Regions from separate parts of the Homo sapiens genome. Here region 1 is linked to region 2. The links come from fine-mapping of genetic effects on gene expression. Tissue or cell type: neutrophils. Region 2 holds a variant in brackets; the other region holds the start of a gene. All regions are shown on one strand. Distances are from middle to middle.

Region 1 (6,901 bases), 170 kb after region 2:
AATTTTGGAAAAACACTCATCAGAGCAGAGCTACACATACTCATAAAACCTAGCCTCTGTATCAGATTCACAATCAGGTCTGATTTTACCAAATGCTGAAATTATTTTTAATCAAAAATATTCAGATCTTTATACTAATAAAGTAACTCTAAAAATTAAAAACTTAGAAATACTTCTAACTTAGGGCATGGAATTTCAAAACAGACATTCTGTATTTCTCTCATACTAGTGTAATGCAAAAAACACTAGTTTCTGTTGAAGTTACATTTGATTCAACAAGTTTTAAAACTAAAGCTTGATGACAAAAATAACAAAAAAATAGTGTTAAGACCTTGCTTAGCAAAAGCTATCCAAATTTTTTAAATGTGTGTGTGTATATATATATATATATATATATATATATATATATATATATACACACACGCATGCACACACACACATATATATATACACATTTTTTTTTTTAGCCAGGGTCTTGCTGTTGCCCAGGCTAGCCTCAAGCAATCCTCCCACCTCAGTCTCCCAAATAGCTGGGAATACAGGCATGAGCCACCATGCCCAGGTATTTATTTATTCATTTATTTTTGTAGAGACAGAGTCCCACTCTGTTGCCCAGGGTGGTCTCGAACTCCTGAGCTCAAGGGATCCTCCTGTCTCAGCCTCCCAAAGTGTTGGGATTACAAGGCATGAGCCACCACACCCATCCCAAAATTTTTTACATAGTTCAACCTGAGAAGTTATGAGAATGTATTTATGAACAAATTGAACTTGAATGAAAGCAAAGGCCACAAAGAAGAAAGCAGGCATGCCATCTCTCCAGGTCCTGTCCACATCTAGGATATAGAAAAGAACAGATCTACAGACTCATGCTGAACCCAGTTATTGATCATCTCCAGACCTGCTTTACAATACCAACCTATGTGTAATTCTCATATTCCACCTTCAAACAATACATTAACAACACTTGCTCTATAATCCAGCAACCATATCAACTTAATCAGAAAGCACCACCTCACTTCTTAGAGGAACACAAGAACTAGATTTTGTTATGACTAAACTAAGGAGACAAAATGCCAGCCTTTAAATAAAATATCCACCATGATATCACCTCTTAAGAGTTATTCAAATCTCATCAGCACACTTTCATCAGGCTCAGACAGGCACATCATGACACAAAGCGGAATGTTCAATGGTGGCAGAACAGCTGCTCAGAGCAGTAAGAGATATGAGCAAGGGATCTGTTGACAATCTAATTTCAGCTACCTCGAGATTCCACAAAGATGACAGCCTGCGTCCTCAGAAATGCCGCCACTAGCCTCGCCCACTATCAGAATACTCTGGTTTACTTCTTCTCTGCAAGTCGAGCGACTCTGAAAATCTATCCATCCAATGCTCTACGGCTACTCGAGGCCTCCATACTGATACAGTGGCCTTAGCAATTCTCAGATCGGCCTATGCACATGTAAAGCATCAGCAGGCCTTTCACAGCCCCCGCACTGGACGCAGAAGATGAATAGAGAAACACGGAATTTCACCCCAACAAGAATGGAATCTTGAAGGCAGTTTACCTTGGAAGCTCATTTAGCAATCAAGGAAAAAAAAAAAAAGGGATCTGGAAGCTCCATTCTGGCGTTAGGGGCGGGAATGTTTTGTGTTGCATGAACAATGACTAGCTTGCTCAAGCAGCCTCCCAACCCCCACAACTTGGCTTCTGGTCTGGCCAGTCACCCTGAAAGCTGCCAGGGCTGTCACTCGGTGCCTTCCAACAACTGGACTTGGCTCCTAAAGGATTTGTCAGATCATCCTCCCAATATGGCTGCCCGAGTAATCCCAGTCGGCTGAATGCCGAGACCACACCAGCCTTCCTCACACCTGGCCAGCATCCAACAAGCCCCCTCCCTTCCTATCGCACCCCTCTTTCCAGGCCTCGAGCCCTCGGCTCCCCCAGCGCCAAGCGATGACCTTTCCTATCGCCATCTGGCAAAGGGCATAACCACATTCCCAGCCGAAGCCCGATGCCCACCACAAAGGAGGAAAGGGGAGAGGGAAAATGAGAAACGATGGCTTCAAACGAAGCACAGCCGCCCCCCGGGCTGCAACGTGCGCGGAGCCCAGGGAACGGCCAGGCAGCGGCGGGTCTGGAGAGCGCTGGGCACAGCCGGGGCCTGGCAGCGCGGGGGAAACGGAGGGCCGGTGCAGGGCACTGCGGGGGCCCCAGCCGACCGCTGGACGCCGGCCCGGGACTCGCTGCTGGCCTAGGGAGGGGTCCCCTCCCCCGAGGGCGAGGCTCCCGCACCCGGCGCCCGTCCCGCGCTACCTCCCCTCAGACCCCGCCCGGACCCCGGCCCGGCCGCTCCTCCCCGCGGAAGCGGCCCCCTCCCCAACCCCGCGACCGCGGCGCCAACCGCGGCCAGCCCCGCCGCCTTACCTCAGCCGCGCTGCAGACCGACGGGCGGACCGGGTCAACAGGAGCCGCGGCGCGCGGGGGCGCGGGGGGCCGGGCACCGACGCACCTCAGCGCGAGCAGCGGCCGCCGCGAGCCGCAGGGCGCCGCTCCGCAGCCCCATCACGCAGCAGCCCGGCACCGCATCGAGGTGGGAGGTGGGCGGTGGGCGGCGGACAGGAGTGCGCGAGTGCGGGAGGCCAGGGCGCGGCGACGGCCGGCGGTGACGGCTGCGGAGGACGGGGAGCTGCTCCGACGCGCGCGGGCGCCTCCCAGGACCGCTGCCGTCACACTGCCCCGCTTCGGCCCTCGCGAAACTCCGCCCGCAGTCGCCGGCGCGGGACACCGCCCCGAGCTGGGCCTCTGCGCGTCACCTCGTATCCGCCCCGGCGCCCGCGACGGACACGGGCTGTGACCAATCACAGCACAGAGCTCGGGGCGGCCAGCCAATCGTAGGGTGAGCCGGGGAGTGGGGCTGCTGCGGGGGGCTGCAGGAACATCGAGCGCCCCCTGGTGGCCCTCGGGCCGGCTCAACCAGGGGTGCGGGCTGGCCAAAGCCGGAGCCCGGAGTTCCCTCCCGGGTGACCCCCAAGGGCATTCGTCGGAATCAGCCGCCCCCAGCCACCCCGATAATCCGCCTTATACGGGGACAAAAGATTGACTGAGTGGAGCGGGGCGGGGCCCAGGGGTCCTGACGCCCGCAGAGGAGCTGGGATCAACATGGGAGGCGCCGAGAGTGGAATCATTGTCCGTCGGAAAACATCTCGCAGGCGGAACCGGCCGAACGCGGCGCGGTGGGAGCGGAACCCCGAGAGGGGATGAGCGCATCCCGCGGGAAGCTGCCTGGCCTATTCTTACAGAACCCGAGCAAAACACCTCCCACGCGCCACCTCGGGAGAGAAGGCGGAATGAGTAATGGAAAAGCATGACTTGGTGGGCATTCCACTTGTCTCCTTGGGAGACCGCGGAAGGGCTGTGAGGAGAGGAACAAACGCTTTGCACCGTCCCTGAGTTAACGAGCCCAGCCCCCTTCTGGGAGATGCCCTTGAAGGAGGGAGAGTGGAAGTTAGAAACCCGGAGGACACAAAAGCACGAGCAGTGATTTCTTTAAAATCAGATTTAGATTCAGCTGGAAAGAAAAATCTCACTGTTCAGAAACTGTTCAATTCAGTACTTAACAAAATATAATCTTCAGTGATAATATATTCAATTATCAGGCCCAGGCCGAGCACTATTACTTTATAAGGTTGTGAATTATTTTTATTTACTAGCAGACATTGAAAGTAAAATCACATGTCTTCCCCTGAATTAAATACAGTATTATTGTGAGTAAAAGGTATTATGTACAAGCATATGCACTAAAACATCGAAATTAATTTTCTACACTAATAATTCTGGAAAATCTCCACCACCACTCAAGTCCTCAGACTCTTCATCCGCTTTTATTGATCACGTCTCATTTTATAGAATTTAAGCTCCACCTACCTGCAAAAGGATTTGACATAGCTTACACTAAAGCATACAGCAGTGAAACCGTATAGCTTTAAAATAGGCGTAAAATTCATAATAATGAAACAAGCAAGAGACTTTTTAAAAGCTGTTTGAATGAGAGGCATGCCTAGAAAGAAAAATTTTTTTGTTTTGTTTTGAGACAGAGTTTTACTCTCGCCCAGGCTGAGCTCAGTGGCACGATGTCAAATCTCTGCAACCTCCGCCTCCCAGGTTCAAGCGATTCTCCTGCCTCAGCCTCCCGAGTAGCTGGGATTACAGGTGCCTGCCACCACGCCCGGCTAATTTTTGTATTTTTAGTAGAGACGGTGTTTCACTATGTTGGTCAGGTTGGTCTTGAACTCCTGACCTCAGGTGATCCACCTGTCTCAGCCTCTCAAAGTGCTGGGATTACAGGAATGAGCCACCGCGCCCGGCCAGAAAAACAATATTTTAAAAATCCATAGTCAAGGAAATATGTTGCCACTGAGCACAGAACTCAGCTCTTAGCTTCCTGACGGCTAAGAGTAAAATGAAACTATAGTAGGTTAATAAAGAGGAACTCATCAATTCAACAGTAGACACCACTTCATCATAGCGTGGACCTCCTTGCGTAAATACTGTGGTGAGCGCCATGGAGAGTTACGAAAACCTGGGTGGCTGTATTGCTTGAGCTCTCAATGGAGCACAATCTAAAAAGAATCTAAAACGTAGTGAAGAACCAGGCGCGGTGGCTCACGACAGTAATCCCAACACTTTGGGAGGCTGAGGCGGGTGGATCACTTGAGGTCAGGAGTTCGAGACCAGCCTGACCAACATGGCAAAACCCCATCTCTACTAAAAAATACAAAAATTAGCCAGGCGTGGTGGGCACGCCTGTAATACCAGCTACTTGGGAACCTGAGGCAGGAGAATCACTTGAACCCGGGAGGTGGACGAGGCGGCAGTTGCAGTGAGCTGAGATCCTACCACTGAACTCCAGCCTGGGAGATAGAGTGAGACTCTGTCTCAACAAAAAATAAAATAAAATTTAAAACAAAAACGTAGTGAAGAGGGTGTGATTGTGATTGGCAGGAGAAGAAGCTAGCCAAAGGGCACACAGAAGGCACAGAAGGGTCAATAAAGGCAAAGAAGGCTGCTCCAGGATCCAAGGCCAAACAGCCCACTCTGCATAAGCCTTTTGCCTCTCTGACAGATGAAGTCACACTGCCCAGCCAGTTTCTCAGATTACAAATTCTGTATAAAAGCATCTCTTTAAAATGATAAATAAATTACTAGAAAATTGAATGTAGCCATGATCTGGTAGGGCTGTCTCTGGAATGCAAGGATACGAGAACATCAGAAGTCCTAGTCACGTGGTGCACTGCCACTCTCCCATCACAATCACAATCACAATCAGGTTTCTGGATACAAAATCAATACACAAAAATCCGAAGTGTTCCTTTTTGATAGGAAGACTTTATTATTACTATTATTTTAGACAGGGTCTCACTCTGTCACCCAGGCTGGAGTGCAGTGGTGTGATCACAGCTTACTACAGCCTCAACCCTTGCCCCCTGGTTTAATCCATCCTCCCACCTCAGCCTCCTGAGTAGGTGGCACTATAGGCACACACCACCACGCCCAGCTAATTTTTCTATTTTTTGTAGAGACGGCTGGTATCCAGCTCCTGGACTCCAGTGATCCATCAACCTCAGCCTCCCAAAGTGCTGGGACTACAGGTGTGAGCCACTGAGCCTGGCCTTTATTGCTATTTTTAATGGGATCTTTTTAAAAAATCAAGTCTTCCCGGCCAGGTGCTGTGGCCCACGCCTGTAATCCCAGTACTTTGGGAGGCAGAGTAGGCTGATCGCTTGAGCCTAGGAGTTTGAGACAAGCCTAGGCAACATAACGAGACCCTATCTCTACAAAAAATACAAAAAAAAAAAAAAAAGTAGCCAGACATGGTGGTATGTACCTGTAGTCCCAGCTGCTTGGGAGGCTGAGTGGGAAGATCAATTGAGCCTGGAAGGTCAAGGCTACAGTGAGCTATGATTGCACCACAGCACTCGAGCCTCAATGACAGAGTGAGATCCTGTCTCAAAAAAAAAAAGAAAGAAAGAAAAAAAGCAATAAAAGCTATTCAATATTTAAGAATAAATGCACCTGTAATCCCAGCACTTTGGGAGGCCCAGGTGGGTGAATCACTTGAGGTAAGGAGTTCGAGACCAGCCTAGCCAACATGGTGAAACACAGTCTCTACTAAAAATACAAAAAATTAGCCAGATGTGGTGGTACATGCCTGTAATCCCAGCTACTCGGGAGGCTGAGGCAGGAGAATGGCGTGAACCCAGGAGGTGGAGCTTGCAGTGAGCCGAGATCTCACCACTGCAGTCCAGCCTGGGTGACAGAGCGAGACTCTGTCTCAAAAAAAAAAAAAAAAAGGTGCAGGATAATAGGTGCGGGACAGTGGCATTTATACATAAAGTCTGAAGTATGAATATGAGCACTATACTGTTTAGGACTAAATTTATGTATAGTCAAGTGTGAAAACATGGATGGCAATGACAATCATCAAATTCAGGATGAGATTAACCCAGGAAAGAAAGAGAGAAAAACAAAACAAACAAACAAAAAAAGGGAGGATGACATGAGGATCTGCAACTTTATGTGTAATATTTTATTTCTTGAAAAACAAAATAACAGGAAGATGGAAATGTTGAGTTGGGAGGAAAAACCAGAGAATTTATTGATTTGTCTTGAACTCCTTATTGTTATTATTATTTTTTGTTTGTTTTTTGAGATGGAGTCTCGTTCTGTCGCCCAGGCTGGAGTTCGGAGGTGCTATTTCTGCCGTTGATGATTTTCCGCCTTCCATTTTCTTCTCTGGAAATGTCTATTATTGATTGATTGATTGACCGATTAATTGATTTAGAGACAGAGTCTCCCCTTCTCACCCAGGCTGGAGTGCAGTGACTCGATCTCGGCTCA
Region 2 (7,889 bases):
GAGGGCACAACCAGCATAATATGCACTGATTCGGGGATGATCTCCCATTTTAAACTGCAAGTCCAGTTTCAGGAAGACGTGGCCTGACATAAGCCCTAGAGCTGACATTAACTAACTTTTTTTTTTTTTTTTTTTTTGAGACAAAAATCTCGCTCTGTAGCCCAGGCTGGAGTGCAATGGTGTGATCCCGGCTCACCGCAACCTCTGCCTCCCGGGTTCAAGTGATTCTCCAGCCTCAGCCTCCCGAGTAGCTGGGATTACAGGTACCCACCACCATGCCCAGCTAATTTTTGTATTTTTAGTAGAGACAGGGTTTCACCATGTTGGCCAGGCTGGTTTTGAACTCCTGAGCTCAGGTGATCCACCCGCCTTAGCCTCCCAAAGTGCTGGGATTACAGGCATGAGCCACCACGCCCAGCCAGACATTAACTTAAGACTGAAGAGTCCTAGCAATCCAGAGACTTGCAGTGTTCCTATCACTGAGCTGTCGGCAGCACTGTGGATATAAGCCAGGGTGCTCAGTTGGATCTAGGACCTACCTCTCTGCTGTGCACTGGCCCCCAGTCCCTCAGGCCCACTCCACAACTCTCTCCACCTCACTGTCTTCCCCACTGCCAGGTTTTCCCTCCCAGTTCATTTTTTCCAATTAGTACATGCACAAGCTATGCTATTTCCCTTCTTTAAAACAAAAGCCTCTCCTTTACCCCATATCCCCTTCCAGTTACTCCATTTGTCTTTTCCCTTTTACAGAAAAATCTATGAAAGAATTGTTTGTACTGTTTCACCCTCCTCTCCTCCCACTTTCCCTAGAACCTACTCCAATTAGGCACCACTCAAACAAATGCTCCCCTCACCAATGACCTTGCTAGTGTAGAAGCACTCCTGATGCCTCCCTCCATGAGAAGTGAGCCCCATTACTAGAATGTTCCTGTGAGTCTGGAAGGAGCGGTTAGGCATAGACTGCCTGGCCACTTCCTCCCTCTCTCTCAGAACCTCGGCTGCCTTCAGGGGACATATGCGCTGCGTTCCTCTTAACTTCTGCTACTCAAAGAGTGATCCCCACAATGGCAATACTGACATCACTTGGAAGCTTATTAGAAAAGCAGAATCTCAGGCTCCACCCAAGCCCTACTCAATCAGAACCTGCATTTTAGTACGATCCCCAGGGGATTCTGGTGCACAATAAAGTTCAAGAAGCACTGCTCTAAACCGCCTCATTCTGAGGTTCAGCCTTACAAAATAAATCCAGGCCGGGCGCGGTGGCTCACGCCTGTAATTCCAGCACTTTGGGAGGCTGAGGCGGGCAGACCATGAGGTCAGGAGATCGAGACCATCCTGGCTAACATGGTGAAGCCCCGTCTCTACTAAAAATACAAAAAAAAAAATTAGCCGGGCGCGGTGGCGGGTGCCTGTAGTCCCAGCTACTGGGGAGGCTGAGGCAGGAGAATGGTGTGAATCTGGGAGGCGGAGCTTGCAGTGAGCCAAGATGACACCACTGCACTCCAGCCTGGGCGACAGAGCGAGATGCCATCACAAAAAAAAAAGAAAAGAAAAGAAATCCAGTGTTCCCAGATGTAACCACATTTTCTAACAGCAGTTTTATCAGTAATAAGGGTGGTATTTTGGTCTCCCATCTCCCATCGTCTTATTTTTTGTTTCTTAATTGGTTCTGAAATTGGGAAAAATTAGGGTATCCCCTGGCTCCCTCGGACTTCTTACACCTTTCAGTTAACAAAACCTGTGGTCCCTGCTCAGTCCTTCCTGTAACCTATTGGCTGCCCTGGACAAAGCAACCACTTCCTCAGTCTTCCACACTCTCCCTCCACGGCCACTGCTTGTCCTCCTGGCTGGACTCCTCTCTCTTCCTGACCTCCATGTGTTGGAGCGCACCAAGCTCCAAGATCAGTCCTTGGTTCCTGTCAGCCACACACACGCTCCAGGTCTCCTTCCCTGCCTGAGGCTCGATCTGCTATCTTCATGCCGCCAACTCCCAAATGTGTGTCTCCAGCTCCAACCACTCCCCTTGAATCCCGCTAGTCCAGCCAACTGTTTTGTTGACTATACACTTAGGTGCATGTGTTGGCATCTGAAAGTGAACATGACTCAAATCAAATTATTATTATTATTTTGAGACAGTTTCGCTCTCTGTTGCTCAGGCTGGAGTGCAGTGGCGTGATCTCAGATCACTGCAACCTCTGCCTCCTGGGTCCAAGCGGTTCTCCTGTCTCAGCCTCCCAAATAGCTGGGATTACAGGCGCCTGCCACCACGCCCCGCTAATTTTTGTATTTTTAGTAGAGACGGGGTTTCACCATGTTGGCCAGGCTGGCCTCAAACTCCTGACCTCAGGTGATCTGCCCGCCTCGGCCTCCCAAAGTGCTATTTTCTTAACAGTCAGGGTCTCAACTCTGTTGACCAGGCTGGAGTGCAGTGGCAAGATCACAGCTCACTGCAGCTTCCAACTCCTGGGCTCAAGCGATCCTTCTGCCTTAGTCTCCTGGGTATCTGGCACTACTGGCGTGCACCATCATGCCCAGCTAATTTTTAATTGTTTGTAGAGATGGGGTCTCACTACATTGCCCAGGCTGGTCGGTCTCGAAGTCTTGGGCTCCAGTGATCCTCCCACCTTGGCTTCCCAAAGTGCTGGGATTACAGGCATGACCATTCTCAGCTTTTGTTCTACCAATTGTCTTCACCTTAGAAAACTGCAATGCTGTTCTTTTACTCAGGCACTTACCCTTTTAGTTACTTTTCTCCTTTCTCTCCAACAACTCTGCATGAAGTCTCTCAGAAAACTGTTCTAACTTCAAAATGTACCTTGAATCTGCCCATTTCGTCCCACCTATACTCTACTACCTTAGTCTGAGCCACCGTCTCCTCCCCTGGAATACTGGGGTAACAATCTTATTTTGCCCCTTTTTTCCACTTGTCCCTGCCTGAGTACAAAGACTGTTTTCCAGAATGGTCTTTTAAAAATGTAAATAAGCCCCTGTGACTCCTCTGCTCCAAAGCCTTCAATGGCTTCCCATTCACTCTAATGAAATTCCAAGTCCTCACCTAAGCCCTAAATATCCTGGTCCCTGGCTACTTTCTGATGTCTTCTATTGCGCTCCCAGTCCCTGACTCTGTACCAGCGACCTTGCTATTTCTGGAACCTACTGAGGACACTGCTGCCTCAAGGGCTTCATTTCTCTACTTGGAGACCTCTTTGCCCAGGGGTTTGCATGGCTTACCCTATCCTTTCATTCTAGAGTCTGCTCAAATGTGATCTCCGAAGAGAGGCCTTCCCTGACTATGCCATCTAAACATCCCTCGTTCCCATCCCTCTTTCATCCTTTTATTTAGCTGCTTTCCTCCAAAATACTTAGGACCGATGTTGTAAATTTGTTTAAACATTGTCTTCCCCACTGGAATGGGAGGGCACAAGTGCATGGGCTTGCTTTGTTGGCTGCTGAATTACTGCACCCAGCAGCACACCAGGCACAGGGTGGGTACTCAAATATTGGTTGGAACAAATCATTGCTTTTAACCTGAGGGCTGCTCCTCCCTCCCTTCTTCTGTTTCTCCCCAAACACCCAGGACAGTGGCCCCTGCTC[A/G]TGCTCTGCTCGTGATGAGGGCTTGTTAAATTAAATTGACATGTTCAACTTTTCAAATCCCCATTTACCCTTCCCCACCCAAAAAAACCCAACATGGCCAGGCACGGTGGCTCACGCCTGTAATCCCAGCACTTTGGGAGGCCGAGGTGGGCGGATCACCTGAGGTCAGGAGTTTGAGACCAGTCTGGCCAATGTGCTGAAACCCCGTCTCTACTAAAAATATTTTTAAAAATTAGCCAGGTGTGGTGGCGGGCACCTGTAATTGCAACTACCTGGGAGGCTGAGGAAAGAGAATTGTTTGAACTGGGGAGGCAGAGGTTGCAGTGAGCTGAGATGGTGCCATTGCACACCAGCATGGGTGACAAGAGTCAAACTCCATCTCAAAAAAATAATTATAGGTTGGGCACGGTGGCTCAAGCCTGTAATCCTAGCACTTTGGGAGGCTGAGGCGGGTGGATCACAAGGTCAGGAGCTTGAGACCAGCCTGGCCAACACAGTGAAACCCCTCTCTACTAAAAATAAAATCAGCCAGGCGTGATGGATGCCTGTAATCCCAGCTACTTGGGAGGCTGAGGCAGGGAGAATCGCTTGAACCCGGGAGGTGGAAAGTTGCAGTGAGCCGAGATCATGCCACTGTACTCCAGCCTGGACGACAGAGTGAGACTCCATCTCAAAATAAATAAATAAATAAATAAAATAATAATAATAATAATAATAATAATAATACAAAAATTAGCCACGCATGGTGGCGCACGCCTGTAATCCCAGCTACTCAGGAGTCTGAGGCAGGAGAATCGCTTGAACCCAGGAGGCAGAGGTTGCAGTGACCCGAGATCACATCACTGCACTCCAGCATGGGTGACAGAGCAAGACTCTGTCTCAAAAAGAAAAAAAAAAAAAAAAAGAAGCCAACACAACACTACAGAATTATTGGAAGGCATACAAGGAGGCTTCAGGAGAAAAACAACAAATCTTCTAGCTAAAATAACCACTTACATCTTTGGGAGAAAAGTACTTTCAAAGAAACAGCACCATATTAGCTTTCTTGGTTATATAAAAACCACGATTTTGAATATCAGAAAGGAATACTTAAGCGATGATATCGTGACTTCTGTCTTAGAAAGGTATTATCTTTGCAAATCAAGAAAAGAAATCTTTGTGCAATTACCTTTCAAGGGGTGCAAGAATAAATGCACATCGAGAACCTTCTGATGCACTGGCTGTACCTTTATTATTTTTACCTCGTTCACTAACAGCTCCGTGACGCAAGGTTACCACACACAGTTAGATAGTGTCTGCATTGCACATCTAAGGCTATACAGCAAAAGAATCAGAATTAGTACAAATACAAGAACTATATTTACAGTCTGTATACTCAAGCTCCAAACATCAGATAATATTTACAAAATAAAACATGAAAATGAAAATCCAAAATTAATGTACATTGTTGCTAATGTGCTCAACTCCTTCACGGGGGAGAGATCAGTTTGCAAAGTCTTGGTTCAAAAAGGCCACTTATGCATTATGGGTTTTGTTGTCATGTGTGAGGATGGTGACAAGAGACTTGAAATCTCAACAGACAGGTACTTTAGAGCCACAAAGTCTAAGACGATGCCTTAAATACAAGAAGGCTGAGGGACTCCTCAAGTGAGCTGATGCCAGAATAGGCAGAATGAAAAAAAATGAACTCGAAGACATGAAGAACAACACACAACAGCCACGGTTTGGCAAGAGACCAACCTCAGCTCAGACTTTCCATCTGAGCACAGCCGTTTGGCTATGAGCTTTTTACTGAATTTTATAGCAACTCTGATTTCTTCCTTTAAATGATTGGAGGCTTTTTAAAGATCTTATGGGGCTCAAATACTAACTTCATAAATGGCCTTTTGAATAACAGCAGCAAATAATCTCTCAGCTGATATTTCAATTTACTAAGGAAGCACAAATTAAAACATTCCTGCTACACAGTCATGGTCTGGCCACACACTGGGGTGAATCACTGGCCCTGGTGAACAACTGTAGTGCACACAAGTTAGAGTCCTATGTAAACACATCCAGCAAACCTTCTGGGAGCAGCAGCATCATGAATCTTTTCTTTTTTTTTGAGACGGAGTCCTGCTTTGTCACCCAGGCTGGAGTGCAATGGTGCAGTCTCAACTCACTGCAGCCTCCACCTCCCAGGTTCAAGCTATTCTCCTGCCTCAGCCTCCCAAGTAGCTGGGACTACAGGCACACGCCACCACGCCTGGCTACTTTTTGTATTTTTAGTAGAGACGGGGTTTCACCATGTTGGCCAGGCTGGTCTCAAACTTCTGACCTCAGGTGATCCACCTGCCTTGGCCTCCCAATGTGCTGGGATTACAGGCGTGAGCCACCACACCCGGTTGAATCTTTCAAGAGGCAGGTTAACAATCACATTTTTAAAAGGGAACCGAAAGGAAAACTGAAAGACCTAAGTCAAACAAGCCCTGATACTGTCCATTGGAACCCGAGCGGGACACAGCACGAGGGAAATGCAGAAAGAGTACCGATGAGTGTGCACACTGGAGAATCCTTTCTCTCCAATCCACTGTGCAAGTAAGTATAGCTGGATAAATATACATAGACCTGACAAAATTAAATATCCCTGTAAATTAGACAATAAGCAGCAGGCAACAAAGTCTTTGCTTTGGAATATGTGCCAGGAAAAGTCATCTTGTTTTTAGATCTCAAGAGACAGTTCACAATGACTTAGTTCCTTCATCTGAAATGAGCTGAAAAATCCATAAAAAATAGGAGAGTTGTCTGAAGTCTATGTGACTGAAGGGAAAAAATATATAATAGTGGTTTCTTAGTTGGGAAACTCACTCCATTGCCCCTTGCCGTCAGCACGTTTAACAACGAGCTGGGGCTCAGGTGCCCGGCCACTGCCACAAGCACCCCTTGCCTGTGCTCCTGACTAGCGCATGGGCTGGCTGGCCCTGCACAGTCCTGGCCTGAGCGCTGACTGACTCCCAGGAGGGCACACAGACACAGAGAGGGTCTGAGCACTGATTTGGGGCTGGTGGTGAGGCCATATTTTGCTTTGATGGGAGAAAGGAGGATGAGAGACAGAGGAGGAGGTGATTAGTATTAACTAGCACTTATTTCTCTGAATTTGCCTAAGAATTCTCTTTCCTGCCTTTTAAAGTTTTTGCTTATTTAAAGGCGTGCTTTAAGAAAATACATAAAGGTGGTTTCCTTAAGGGCTATGTTTCTTAACTTTCCCGCCACAACAGCAACAACTAGAGCCTCATAAACAGTTCCTGCCACAAATCTCTCACAGCCTCACAGTGGGGATGGTTCTGTCGGGCAAGGGAGCACCCACCCTGGACGTGCTGGGGACCAGCAAAGGCTGTCTGCACCTGCCAGCCGCAGCAGGGGCGCCCCAGAGGGTGAAGAGCACGCAGGACACGACCACTCTGCTCCCTCTGGCTCCCTAAGAGGCCTTCTTATTCAGGCACGCTATGAACAGACAGTCCAGTTTGGCCTGTTCTAATGTCTGACGCTTCCAAAGCAAAGACTTTCCAAACCAGTTTTGTATGAGTTAGAAGAAAAACAAAAGTCATTTCAGTGTATCACATAATTTCACTCTCTCTCAGGCTTCCCACCGTCCTGTGTCACAGACATGGATCCTCTGTCACACTCTGTAACAGCAGCATCAATGACTTAATTTTAAAAGTGACCTTCAAATTCCATCTTCATTTCCCTGAAATTAGATTTGATTCCAGTCCAGGCAGCCATCTCTAAGCACCGACAGATCCTGCTGGTTTGAATAGAACCGGAAGGGCATATTGTGTCCATCAGACAATGAAACTTCTAACTACATTAGAAAATCTCACATACCACTTAGAAAACAAATAACATCACAGTTAGTGACCTATGTTTTAACAGGAAGAAGAAAGTTAAAAAAAAAATCCGCCATAGAGTTTCCGCGGGTCACTTTTCAGGTGCAGACGCAGCCTGTGATTCTATCCTTTCCTTTCTCTCTCCGTGATTCACTTTTCCTCCTCTTCACAATGCAGTGATAAGGAGCGAAGCTGGGAGACCTGTTCTTCAGAGATGAGCCCAACCAGGAAGTGAGAAACAAGGTTGTGGATGATGACACAAGTCTCCCTAGCAACAACTCTGCAGAGGCGCGCAAGCCCCTGGCCTTTGCTGCGTGAAGCGGGAAGTCATCCAGCTGCCTAACGCCTGAGAGTCAGCAACCTCAAGGCCGAGGACTCACCAAGTGGGAGTGAGCAGATACTTTCCTGAATGCCTGAGCAATGGTGAAA

Direction of the effects. Positions count from the first base shown, and alleles are read on the strand shown. Sizes are in standard deviations (SD) of each study's normalised expression.
As copies of G replace A in region 2, the expression in neutrophils of the gene that starts at base 2,737 in region 1 goes up (moderate effect, 0.49 SD a copy in CEDAR).

The links. PIP is the estimated chance that this variant, and not a neighbour inherited with it, causes the effect.
Region 1: KIF1B starts here. The variant in region 2 is fine-mapped to the expression of KIF1B in neutrophils (CEDAR, PIP 0.95).

Annotation. Positions count from the first base shown.
Region 1 is chr1:10,206,406-10,213,306 of GRCh38, reverse strand. KIF1B (kinesin family member 1B) reads right to left here and starts at 2,737. Exons shown (of 49, transcript NM_001365951.3): 1 at 2,429-2,737. RefSeq lists an enhancer at 949-1,604 and silencers at 2,506-3,025, 3,056-3,135, 3,222-3,516.
Region 2 is chr1:10,378,515-10,386,403 of GRCh38, reverse strand. It overlaps KIF1B (kinesin family member 1B), which reads right to left. Exons shown (of 49, transcript NM_001365951.3): 49 at 4,801-7,889. Among named protein-coding and RNA genes, the nearest start is that of PGD, 17 kb to the left of the region's middle. The variant A/G (reference allele first, on the strand shown) is at 3,595.